3 linked regions of the Homo sapiens genome follow. The protein of the gene in region 2 purifies or fractionates together with the protein of the main gene of each other region. This does not show direct contact. Each region holds a gene or a part of one and is shown on either strand. Other genes may lie near its edges. The genes, in order: SEPTIN8, RGS3 and ZKSCAN8.

What was found.
Region 1: the proteins of RGS3 (region 2) and SEPTIN8 purify together in Homo sapiens (co-immunoprecipitation; 3 studies listed by BioGRID and IntAct, with this or other methods). This does not show direct contact.
Region 3: the proteins of RGS3 (region 2) and ZKSCAN8 purify together in Homo sapiens (co-immunoprecipitation; 3 studies listed by BioGRID and IntAct, with this or other methods). This does not show direct contact.

The regions. Positions count from the first base shown.
Region 1 is NC_000005.10:132,775,117-132,778,866, forward strand, and holds the start of SEPTIN8 (septin-8), read right to left. Parts: upstream 2,124-3,750; 5' UTR 2,022-2,123; coding exon 1,992-2,021; intron 1-1,991. UniProt on the Homo sapiens protein: Filament-forming cytoskeletal GTPase. May play a role in platelet secretion. Seems to participate in the process of SNARE complex formation in synaptic vesicles.
Region 2 is NC_000009.12:113,592,641-113,595,546, forward strand, and holds part of RGS3 (regulator of G-protein signaling 3), read left to right. Parts: intron 1-1,488; exon of another isoform or gene 1,489-1,636; coding exon of another isoform or gene 1,637-1,698; intron 1,699-1,789; coding exon 1,790-1,891; intron 1,892-2,278; coding exon 2,279-2,340; intron 2,341-2,906. UniProt on the Homo sapiens protein: Down-regulates signaling from heterotrimeric G-proteins by increasing the GTPase activity of the alpha subunits, thereby driving them into their inactive GDP-bound form.
Region 3 is NC_000006.12:28,148,322-28,151,971, reverse strand, and holds part of ZKSCAN8 (zinc finger protein with KRAB and SCAN domains 8), read right to left. Parts: 5' UTR 3,565-3,650; coding exon 3,148-3,564; exon of another isoform or gene 3,134-3,147; intron 2,490-3,133; coding exon 2,348-2,489; intron 128-2,347; coding exon 36-127; intron 1-35. UniProt on the Homo sapiens protein: May be involved in transcriptional regulation.

The sequences.
Region 1 (3,750 bases), on a different chromosome or scaffold from region 2:
CTTGCCTGAGTCAGTCCCCTCTCTGTGCCCTGGCCACCCCGCAGCTAATACCAAAACTCCTCACAGGAATGGTCCGAGAGCAAACACAGGACCCCAGGGGAAGGCTTGACCAGCCCACAGCATGGCCTCTCAGCTAACCCTCTGAGGACCATCTCTGGACGAGCAGGGATGGAAGCTCTACAGAGAGTGCCATGAACAGGGCAAATGCATCCTCTGCTCCCTTCTTACATAGGGGGCCAGTCCTCACATCCACGTGGACAATAGGTAGCATATATTATTTATTGTGTCCTTACCATGTGCCAGACACAGGGCTAAGTACCTCCCCTGGATTCTCTTGTTGAATCCTCACAATACCCCTATGAGGGAAGAAATATTTCTATCCCATTATACGCATGAGAGCACCAAGGGGTTAAATAACCTGCCCAAGGTCACATGGCCAACAAGGAGTGTCTAGGATTCCTATCAGGCTGTCTGATTCTGGTTTCTCTACATACCTCTCCCACCTGCAACATCAACTGTTAAACCTCTGGCCACAGACAAGACCCAGACATAACTTTCTGGTCAGCTGGGCACAGAAAATGCACACAGACACACATGCAGAGACACCCAGGCACTCACGGGTCTCTTGGCCTCCAGCTAATCAGCAGGTCTGTTAGGATTCAGGCACTGCCCTCCTCCGGTACATAAATTCCAATTTATAATACGGGGCGAAGTGAATCTCTGAGTAGCCCAGCCTCTGAATCTGTTCCTCATGTATTTAAACTTACTTAACTGACATACGACCCCCTCTCCAATGGGAATAAAACACCCGAGTCTAGAAATTATGAAACCAAGAGCTCCTGCTTTAGTCATGCACATTTCCAAAGTAGAATAAGAAATGTATTTTCAGATTAAATGGAAAATTTACATATATAAATTGGGATGACGGTATTTATAGCATTAATTACATAAGTCCTGGCTCCCTTATTTAGCCCCAGAACCAATTCGTTATCGTTCACATATTCAGAATTCCCCCTTCCCTCCAACAGCCCTGGGCCTCCCTCCTCCTCCTCCTCCTTCTCCCCCTCCTCCCCCTTCCAGCCGACCAGGGCCTTACATGCTGGCAAGAGGACACAGCTTCCTTCACTGTCACAGCCTAGCCTCCCAGACACACCCAGATCCAGCCTTAGACAGCAGGGGATGTCCAGATACAACCCCCCAAAGGCCTCCCTCCCGCGAGTGAATTATGAAAGCCTTTAGTAAGTTGGCTGTCGGCAGGCTCAGGCCCAGTGAGACCCCTGCAGGGACCACCAGGGACATCAACCTTCTGAGGACCTGGACTGGAGCCCAAATAAACGCCCACTGGGCTGAGTCTGGAATCCCTCCAGCTCCTGGCGAATGGCTGCCGCAGACCCGACCACTGAGGCCTGACCTGCCTGGAGTCGCACCCAGGATTCCGGCGTGGGGAGCGGGGCAGAGGGGAGCGGGGGAGGAAGGAAAAGCAGGCCAAGGGTCTTCAGGACTCAAGTCTGCAACTGTCCTGGGCTCGTGTGGGAGACTCTCTCGGATCCTGGGGCCTCCATCCTCCCCGGCTGTACCTATCCCGCAGCACCTGTGCGGCTAGGACTCTTCCCCAAGTGTGCAGAAAGAAACACCCTGGGCGATAGGGTCCGGAGTGTCCCGGACCCTCACCTGCGGCCCCGCGGGCGCCACTCTATCTTCGCACCTGCCCGGAGCCAGGCGGGTCTTTGCTCCTTCCCGCGAAAGGGGTTAGCCTTGCCTGCGCCCCAGGAAGCGACCCCGACCAGCCGCCCGGCAAGGCAGGCCGCCCGACGCTCCGGGACCCCCCGATAGCGCGGCCGAGAGCCCGCGCCGGGGTCCTCGAGCTGGCCCGGTGTCGAGGCCCGGCCGTGAGGCGCTGACAGCCCGCTTCGCGCCCCCCGCCAGCTGCAGGGCGGCCCCTCCTGCGCCCCGCGCCTCCCGCGCGCGCCGTGGCCCAGCGGGGCCCTCACCGAGAAGCGCTCCAGGTCGGTGGCCGCCATGGCGAGCTCCGCACCGGGCGGGTGGGCTGGGACGAGCGCAGGGGCAGCGACAGGGACCAGCCGGCTGCGGGACGCGCTCCGCCCGGGCGGCTGCGGCTGAATGGATCCAATATGGCCACTTCCTGGAAACTCCCCTTGGCGGCGGCGGCGGGAGAAGCCGCGGAGCCGCCCCTGCCCCCGCCCGCGGGACCGGCCTCCCCGCCCGGCCCGGCCACGAGCGCAGCCGGAGCCCCGCCGCTTGGACGGCCGGGGGTCTCCGCGGCGAGGCGGGAGGTGCCAGCTGCGGGGACTGCTGGGACTTGTAGTCCGCGCGTTGGGGGACCGGGACGGCAGTGTCGGGGGGCTCGGGGCTGGTGCCCGGCGGGCCTCTGCGTGTCCCCTGGAGCCTGGGGCCGAGCCTAGGTGAGAGTCTCCTGGGTCCGCGCGCTGGAAAGCCTTTCCCGTAAGGGGGAAGTGGGGCACGGCGTGCGCCCTAGAGATCTCCCCCACCAAGCCGTCTCCACCCGCTGGAGCCTGCAAATGTGCTGGGACCACCAACCAGAGTGTGGACAAGCTGCGGGAGACCCGTCGGATCCGGGAGAGGCCGCGGCAGCCTAGTCTGCGGGTGTCTTGGGCCCCACCTGATGCTCCGGCCGGAGCTAAGGCGGGAACCCCGGCGGGACCCGCGCGTCCGGCCAGGCGGCCTTCCCGGGCAAGGGACCAGCCTTCGGCTCCTTGTGCAACCAACGAGCAGGATGCGCAGTTTAGGCTGGGATTCCTGCAATAGAAAAGCGGAGCTCGACGGTCAAGGCGTCAGATTGCAAGTGTCCATCACCCTGCCTGTCCCAAGGGCTTGGGACAACGTCTTAATGGTTCCACCATTGTGCAAAGAGGATGACCACTCCCAGTGCGTGCACGTTCTCTCCGCTAATGTCACTGCTCAAAACGTTCAGAAAATTAACACTTACGCCAGGGTCGGAGGCCTCAGGAGGTTCTGTATCCTTCTCACTGACAATCTATACAAAAGCAGCTCCCAAATCCTCTGAAACCCCGTTTCTTTCTCTTCCCTCTGCCTTTCTCTCTGCTCTTTCTGGGAATGTGGCAAGGTTTGCCCCCTACCCCCCACTGGCCTCATCCCAGGTTGGTCCACCCTCCACACACACCCCTCACCCCAGTATGCTGAGAAGCAACCTGACCTGTTTCTCCTACTCAGAAACTTGTGCTGACTGGAGGTGCCTAAAGACCACGTTCGACTTAGCACACCTGGCTTAAGAGGAGCCCCCTCTCTGCTGTTTGACCTTGTCACCCTGATTTGGCTTTCCCCTCCTCACTCTCCCAGGCAAACTGTAGCTTGTCCCCAAGGTGGACTGACTTCCCGCTGGACCTTCCTGACAATGTTTTCACTTTGCTCCTCTCTCTATGTTGCTGTTTCCCATGCTGTATTAAAGTTATCTACAAGAAATAGAGCAGAGCAGTGGTTAGGGTAGCTGGATCTATGGCAAACCTTCCTGGTGGAATCCTGCTAGCTTTTTAACCTTAGCTAGGCAAGTTACTTAACTATGCCTCCCTTCCCTGGTCCTAAAAATGAGAACAAGTATAGCACCTATGTTACAGGATTAAATAACATAAGTAAAGGGCTTTAAGTTGTACTTAAAATATAATATTAAATAAAATCTCCCTCTCTAGACTACAAGGGCCTTAATCTCAGAGCCCAGAGAATGTGTGGTCAATACTGAATTGATCATCCTAG
Region 2 (2,906 bases):
ACCCAGCAAATTTTTTTTGTACTTTTAGTAGAGATGGGGGTTTTGCCATGTTGGCCAGGCTGTTCTCAAACTCCTGGCCTCAAGTGATCTTCCCGCCTCGGCCTCCCAAAGTGCTGGGATTACAGACATGAGCCACCATGCCTGGCCTCTGAAGGTCATACTCTTAAAAGCTTAGACGAAGAGTCTTAGAACATCTACGGTAATAATAAGAATAACCATTAATGTTTATTATGCCCCGCACTGTTCTGTGTGTATTTCATATGTAATCTAATTTAATCTTTACCACTACTTTTATTTTCCGTTCTGTTCTTTCTTATTGACCTTACCCTTATTTTACACGTGAATAAACTACTGTGCAAAGAGGCTAAGTTACATGGCAAGAAAGTGGTGGGGTTGGGACCTGGAGACCTGGCCTGCTGGCTTCTGTTTGAGGAAACAGCTTGACAGAGAAAAAACCTTGATAGGAAACTTGAGAGATCAGGAAACGTGTCAAAGGGCACACAGCTGGTAACTGCTGGAGCTGGGATTTGAACCCAAGACTAGCTCCAGAGCCTGGGATCAGCCTCCCCTGCAGGACTCTCCTTCATTAGACAGGGTGTCTAGGTCTTAGTGCCATTTTAAGCTTGAATAGCATCAGAAGTATAAATGCTTCAAACTTACCAAACCCCCTTGAAAGTTTAATTATTAAATTTCTTTTGCACGTCTTTAGTTATGTGATTTTTGAATAATCAATTTTTCATTTTCATTTTTGGTTTGAGTCAGCATTTTCCATCTTTGGGAGGATGGAGACCAAAACTTAAAGTGAAACATTTATTATTCGAAAATCACAAAACCATGCACACAACATTAAATAATTAAACTTTAAAATGGTGTTTTTGTAAGTTTATAGGACTTGTACTTCTGAAGTTATTCAGGCTTAAAACTACTAAGATGTTGGGGTCCTGCTGTATATTCATGACTGGATGTCGCCAATGCAGGTGACTGAGGCTGAGAGGCCGGCTGGCAGGAGCCATTCTCTGGGAGGTGCCCTGTACAGGGGGTCTAGGGAAAAGAGGGGCGAACATGAGCAAGAGGCATTTAACTCCTTTCTTGCCAGCAGTTTCACCCAGTGCTGAATTCTGCTGCCTCCTTGGGGACCGGCAAGGCTAAAAATGGTTCTTGGCTAAAAATAGCCAGTCCTGCCACCCCGGTGGTGGGCAGTGCCTCCCCTGGCTCCCTCCTTCCCTTTCAGCAATTTGCTGACTTGTCCCCCACCCCCCACCACTGTCTCCCTGCTGCCATGGTAACGAGGAGGCCAGTCACAAATAGCTGGGACTGGCTTCCTGCCGGGGCGGCCCCAGAGGCTGTCCCTTGCAGACACATGCCCCTTTCACGGCTCCCTCTCAGGGTTGGCCAGAAGGAATTTTTTTTTCCGCTCCCCCTCCTGGTCCCTCCCATTTCCTGGCTCCTCCTGTCTGAGTCCCAGCCCCGGCTTGTGCCTGGGAGTCCAGTCATCAGGCCAGGATTCCAGAGAGCGTGTGTGGCTGCAGCCTGCACCGTTGCTGCCCGCTGCCCAGGACGCGGGGTGGGGGACAGGAGCCAGAGTGGTGCCTCCTACAGACCAATCTGCGGCCCCAAGGTGGGGGGCCCTACAGAGATGCTCCGAGGCATGTACCTCACTCGCAACGGGAACCTGCAGAGGCGACACACGATGAAGGAGTAGGTGCCCTCGACCCAGCTCTCCCGACTCTGGATTTGCAGGGGCGAGTGGGCCAGGCTGAGCAACCCTCTTTTCTGCTTCTGTCCCCAGAGCCAAGGACATGAAGAACAAGCTGGGGATCTTCAGACGGCGGAATGAGTCCCCTGGAGCCCCTCCCGCGGGCAAGGCAGACAAAATGATGAAGTCATTCAAGTAGGTCCTCCCTGGCACCCTGGGACCCTTTGGGGAACTCACTGGCTCCCCGGGGAGTAGGACTGAGTGGTAGGGTTGAGGGGAAGGGGCTTGCCGGCTTGATCCAGCTCTGGGGGAGACAGGCTTTCACAGAGGGAGCTGGGTACCTGGCAAGCAGCTACCCTCACAGGGAGCAGCTGCCCTAGGGGGAAGGCTAGGTGGGGTGGAGATGGGGGCTGGAAGGGACCCTGGCCCCGGGAAAGAGGGTGGGCCTCCTTCCTGGGCGCCCCAGCTGGGCTCAGCTGCAGACTGGGCCCAGGGCAGTAAACAAAGGCCGCCTGGCCCAGCTTCCCCCAAGGTTCCCAAGCCTCTCAGTGCCCTCACTGTGTTTCCTCCCTCACCCCTCAGGCCCACCTCAGAGGAAGCCCTCAAGTGGGGCGAGTCCTTGGAGAAGCTGCTGGTTCACAAATGTAAGTTGGGCCTGCCTGCCCACTCCCTGTGCCCTCTCTCCCTCTCCCCTTCGCCCCCATCCAGACCCTGTGTAGCTGGTGCTAGAGAGGCCGCCTTCCCTCTCCTCGGCCGTCAGGGTGTCCTTGCTGTTGCGGAGGGGCTGAGCCCAAGCTGAGGCCCTTGGTCTGGCCTTGGAGCCAGCTTCTGCCAGCCCCTCCCCGTCCATGTGAGCTGGCACTGCCTGCCGGAGGCCCGTGGGACCTGTGTGCTCAGATCCATATTCCCAGAATAAGAATAAACATTTCTACGTACTGAGGGCTTTCACGGCGCCAAATGTGCCTGCCATCTCATGGGCAGGGTCCCATCGGCTCCTCCCAGGGCTCCGGGAGACAGAATCGATAGTCCCCATTTCACAGATGAAGACACTGAGGCATAGAGAGGGGGAGACCCCACTGAGACCCTGAAAGAGGCAGTGGCAGGGCTGGGGCCACATCCCAGGGCTCCTGGCTGTCGGGGACGGGCATTGTACTCAGCTCCCAGCACGCCCATCTTTAAAGTCCTGTAGGGGTAAGCTGAGGCATCTTAA
Region 3 (3,650 bases), on a different chromosome or scaffold from region 2:
GCTATGGCGTTTCAGTGAGAAGGAGCACAACTCACCTGGAACCCTGCTGTGAGAAGTGTAGCTGTCATTTCCTGGTCTCCAGAACTTCCTTTCTGGGAACGAGTAGGACTCTGGGAAGTAGACATGGCTGAGAGGAGAAAGGAGCTATGAATGAGACCAGTCCTGTCCTGTGGTTGTGGGAGCTGGCACTCACCCATTCCAAATTATTTTTATTTCAGCAGATATACATGTATGCCAAAGATTTTGCACATGAAGTGCTGATATCTTGGATTCTGGGGCCATATCTATGGCTGCCCCACAAAACATACGCACCCCGATGTCCCTGAAGTCAGACTGAAGTTACACTCAAAAATAGAAAGTATACTGGTTTCCTAACAGGAATCGCTTTTCAATTTCTTCTCTACCATCAAAACTACTTCTGTCTTTGTGGCTGTATACAGTATTTCCTTAGGTCCTAATCTCTTGGCAAACCAAGTATCAGAATCAACCAGTCTCTATTAATTAATTACCTTTCTGAAATGTCTACTATGGCTCCCAGTATTTGCTTTCTATAGATATTAAACGGCTTATTATTAAAATATAGATTACTGTATCTCAGGTAACAAGCTTTAGGACTTTAGACAAGAAGTATTAAGTGTTTTAATGCTTCTTTAGAAATATTAAAAATTCATATTTATAAACTACTCTAAATCACATTAATGAAAAAATATGAAATGCAGGGGAAGATGAGACTGGAACACCTCATTCTGCAATAAAGTAAAAAAATTCTCAAAAAAACAATGGGAAAATGTCAAGAGGATACAAGAGCCAGACTGAAGGGGCCTTCTATGGCCAAATCTGAGATGATTTAGCAAAATAAAGACAGTGGCCGAGCACAGTGGCTCATGGCTGTAATCCCAGCACTTTGGGAGGCTGAAGTGGGCAGATCGCTTGAGGCTAGGAGTTCGAGACCAGCCTGGCCAACACAGTGAAACCTCGTCTCTACAAAAATACAAAAATTAGCCAGGCATGGTGGCGTGCACCTGTAATCCCAGCTACTGGGGAAGCTGAGGATTAAGAATCGCTGGAACCCGGGAGGCAGAAGCTGCAGTGAGCTGAGATCGTGCCACTGTACTCCAGCCTGGATGACAGAGTGAGACTCTGTCTCAAAGACAAAACAAAAACAAAATAAAGACAGTAACAGAATATTTATGGAATAAATACGAATTTGAGTCCATACTGATAAATAAAAAATAATAAAATTGGGAGAAGGGAGCACTCTCCTTTACAATAAAGAAATGTAGAAGGAATGACAGAGTTAGAAAATCACTATTTCATAACCATTCTAGTAATCACTAAGTCAGTCAAGAAGTACCAATGAACACTAAAACTAGTGTTTTAGCAACAAAGTTTAATGAGGACTAAGATATTTAAATACACTCAAGAGTATCTTCCACAAATTACTTATTAGTTACAAAGGGAAAAATAGTAACTATACAATGATTAACCCTGCAAGAATAACCTTAACCAAGTCATCAAAGATAACACCACCAATAATAGGACAAATTCCTGTTGTACCCCTAAGAAGGAGTACAACATCTCTTGTTAAGATTTAGGTCATGTATCCTTGGCAGGGTGAGGTGTTCCTGCCAAATATATATGACCTCAATGTAAACATGATCAAACATCACGCAAATCCAAACTGCAGCCATTCTACAAAATAACACACCTGTACTCTTCAAAAAAAAAGAAAGGTTGAGGAACTATTCCAAAGTAAAGGAGACTAAACAGCCATGACAACTAACCACAAAGTGTGACGCCAGACTAGACTCTGAACCAGAAAGAACATAATTGGGGCAACTGTCAAAATATGAACTATGGCCTAGGTTAGTATTGTAGCAATACTACATTTCTTAATTGTGATAAATTTAGGAATTTATTTATTTAAGTTACCTAAGAAATGCTCGTCTGAGGAAATACATACTGAAATATTTCCAAATAAAGTGGCATGACAATACCAGCATAACCTCAAAAATGTATGTTGTAAATGTACTGTGGTAACAGAAATATGGCACATGTATACATATGTAACTAACCTGCACAATGTGCACATGTACCCTAAAACTTAAAGTATAATAATAAAAGGAAAAAAAATTAAAAAAAAAAAAGTCAAATTATTTAATTTGTTCATGAGTTTACCACTAGAAAGAATAATCTATATTTGAAGCCTAAACATTTAAACACAGACTTTGGGACTGGTCTGTAAACAGGATTTTAGTTCCTGGTTCTTCAGGAACTAGATAGGTATCCCAAATGGACTTTTATTTGTACTTCCCCCCCTTATCATCAATGAAATCTGGCTACTCACCTCTCTCTTGTGACTCTTGGGGCACTGGAGATTTATGTTGGGTTGCCTCAGATTGGAGCTGAGTATTTGGAGGCTCTGGTGCAGATGCTGAATGTACTACCTCCTCCCAGAGTACCCTATGTCCATGTACGCGAGCTGAGACCTGGAAACAACAGACAGTTGGATAATAAGGAATCCCTTTGCGAAATGTAATGAACAATGAAAGAGGACCACGAACACATCTACAGGGATATATGCTTGGGGAAGGAAGCAGCAGAATCTTCCTCACTTCTTAGGGACAGTAAGGAACACGAATACGTAATGAGCACAGAAAGAAAGGCATCATTTTTGCTTAGTACTAAAGGAAAAGATTTCTGCTGATGCCTTCCCTGTTACACAGAACACCAATATTTTGTACTCCTAAGGCAGAGGAAGGAGGAAAACAACAAACTTAAAGCAGTGCTATGCAGTAGAAAAATCTTTTAATAAGGAACTAGAAAGCCTGATTTCTGGTCTCAAATTTACCTTTAATTATTTGGATACCCCTGAAAAATTAACTTAAGCTTCCTATGCATCAAGTTCCCATCTGGCAAACAAGAACAATACAGTCGTAGGGATGTTATGACGACAAAAACAAAATGGATTTATATCCTTTACAAAAGTAAAAAGAACTCTACAAGTCATACTACACTAAAACTATTGTCATCCTTATCCAACAGAAACTGATGCTAAGCATCTGCTCTCCCACTGTGATGCCTATGTCCCTCTACCAAGCTTCCAGGACTCCCACAGTCATAGCACGCATACCTCCTTCTACTTACTGGTCGTCCTAGTATATCAATCTGCCTTTCCAAATCCTCTAATAGGGTCACCACCTCCTCTCCGTTCTCTAGCTGATGTTCCTTAACCAGTGTCTGGAGCTCCTCAGGTAGGATGGTCAAGAACTGCTCCAGCACCAGCAGCTCCAGGATCTGTTCCTTGGTGTTCAAATCTGGCCTCAGCCACTGATGGCAAAGGGCCCGTAGTTGGATCAGAGCTTCTCGGGGTCCTAGTGTCTCCTGGTAGCGTAACTGCCTGAAGCGCAGGCGGAACACTTCTTGGCCAAGAGGGTTACTTTCATGCAGACTAGATTCCTGGTCCCAACCATGATCCTCCTCTACCTTGACGATTACAAGATCCTCTTCAGGAGTCTGGTCTGGTGGGGATGGGGCTGAAGGCTTTCTTGATTCTTCAGCCATTAGAGCCTGAAAAGCTCAGGAAGTTCGTTTCCACTACCTTCTTTATCTTCTTAAGAGAAGACTCTTCTGAGGGCCTCTTTCTAAGG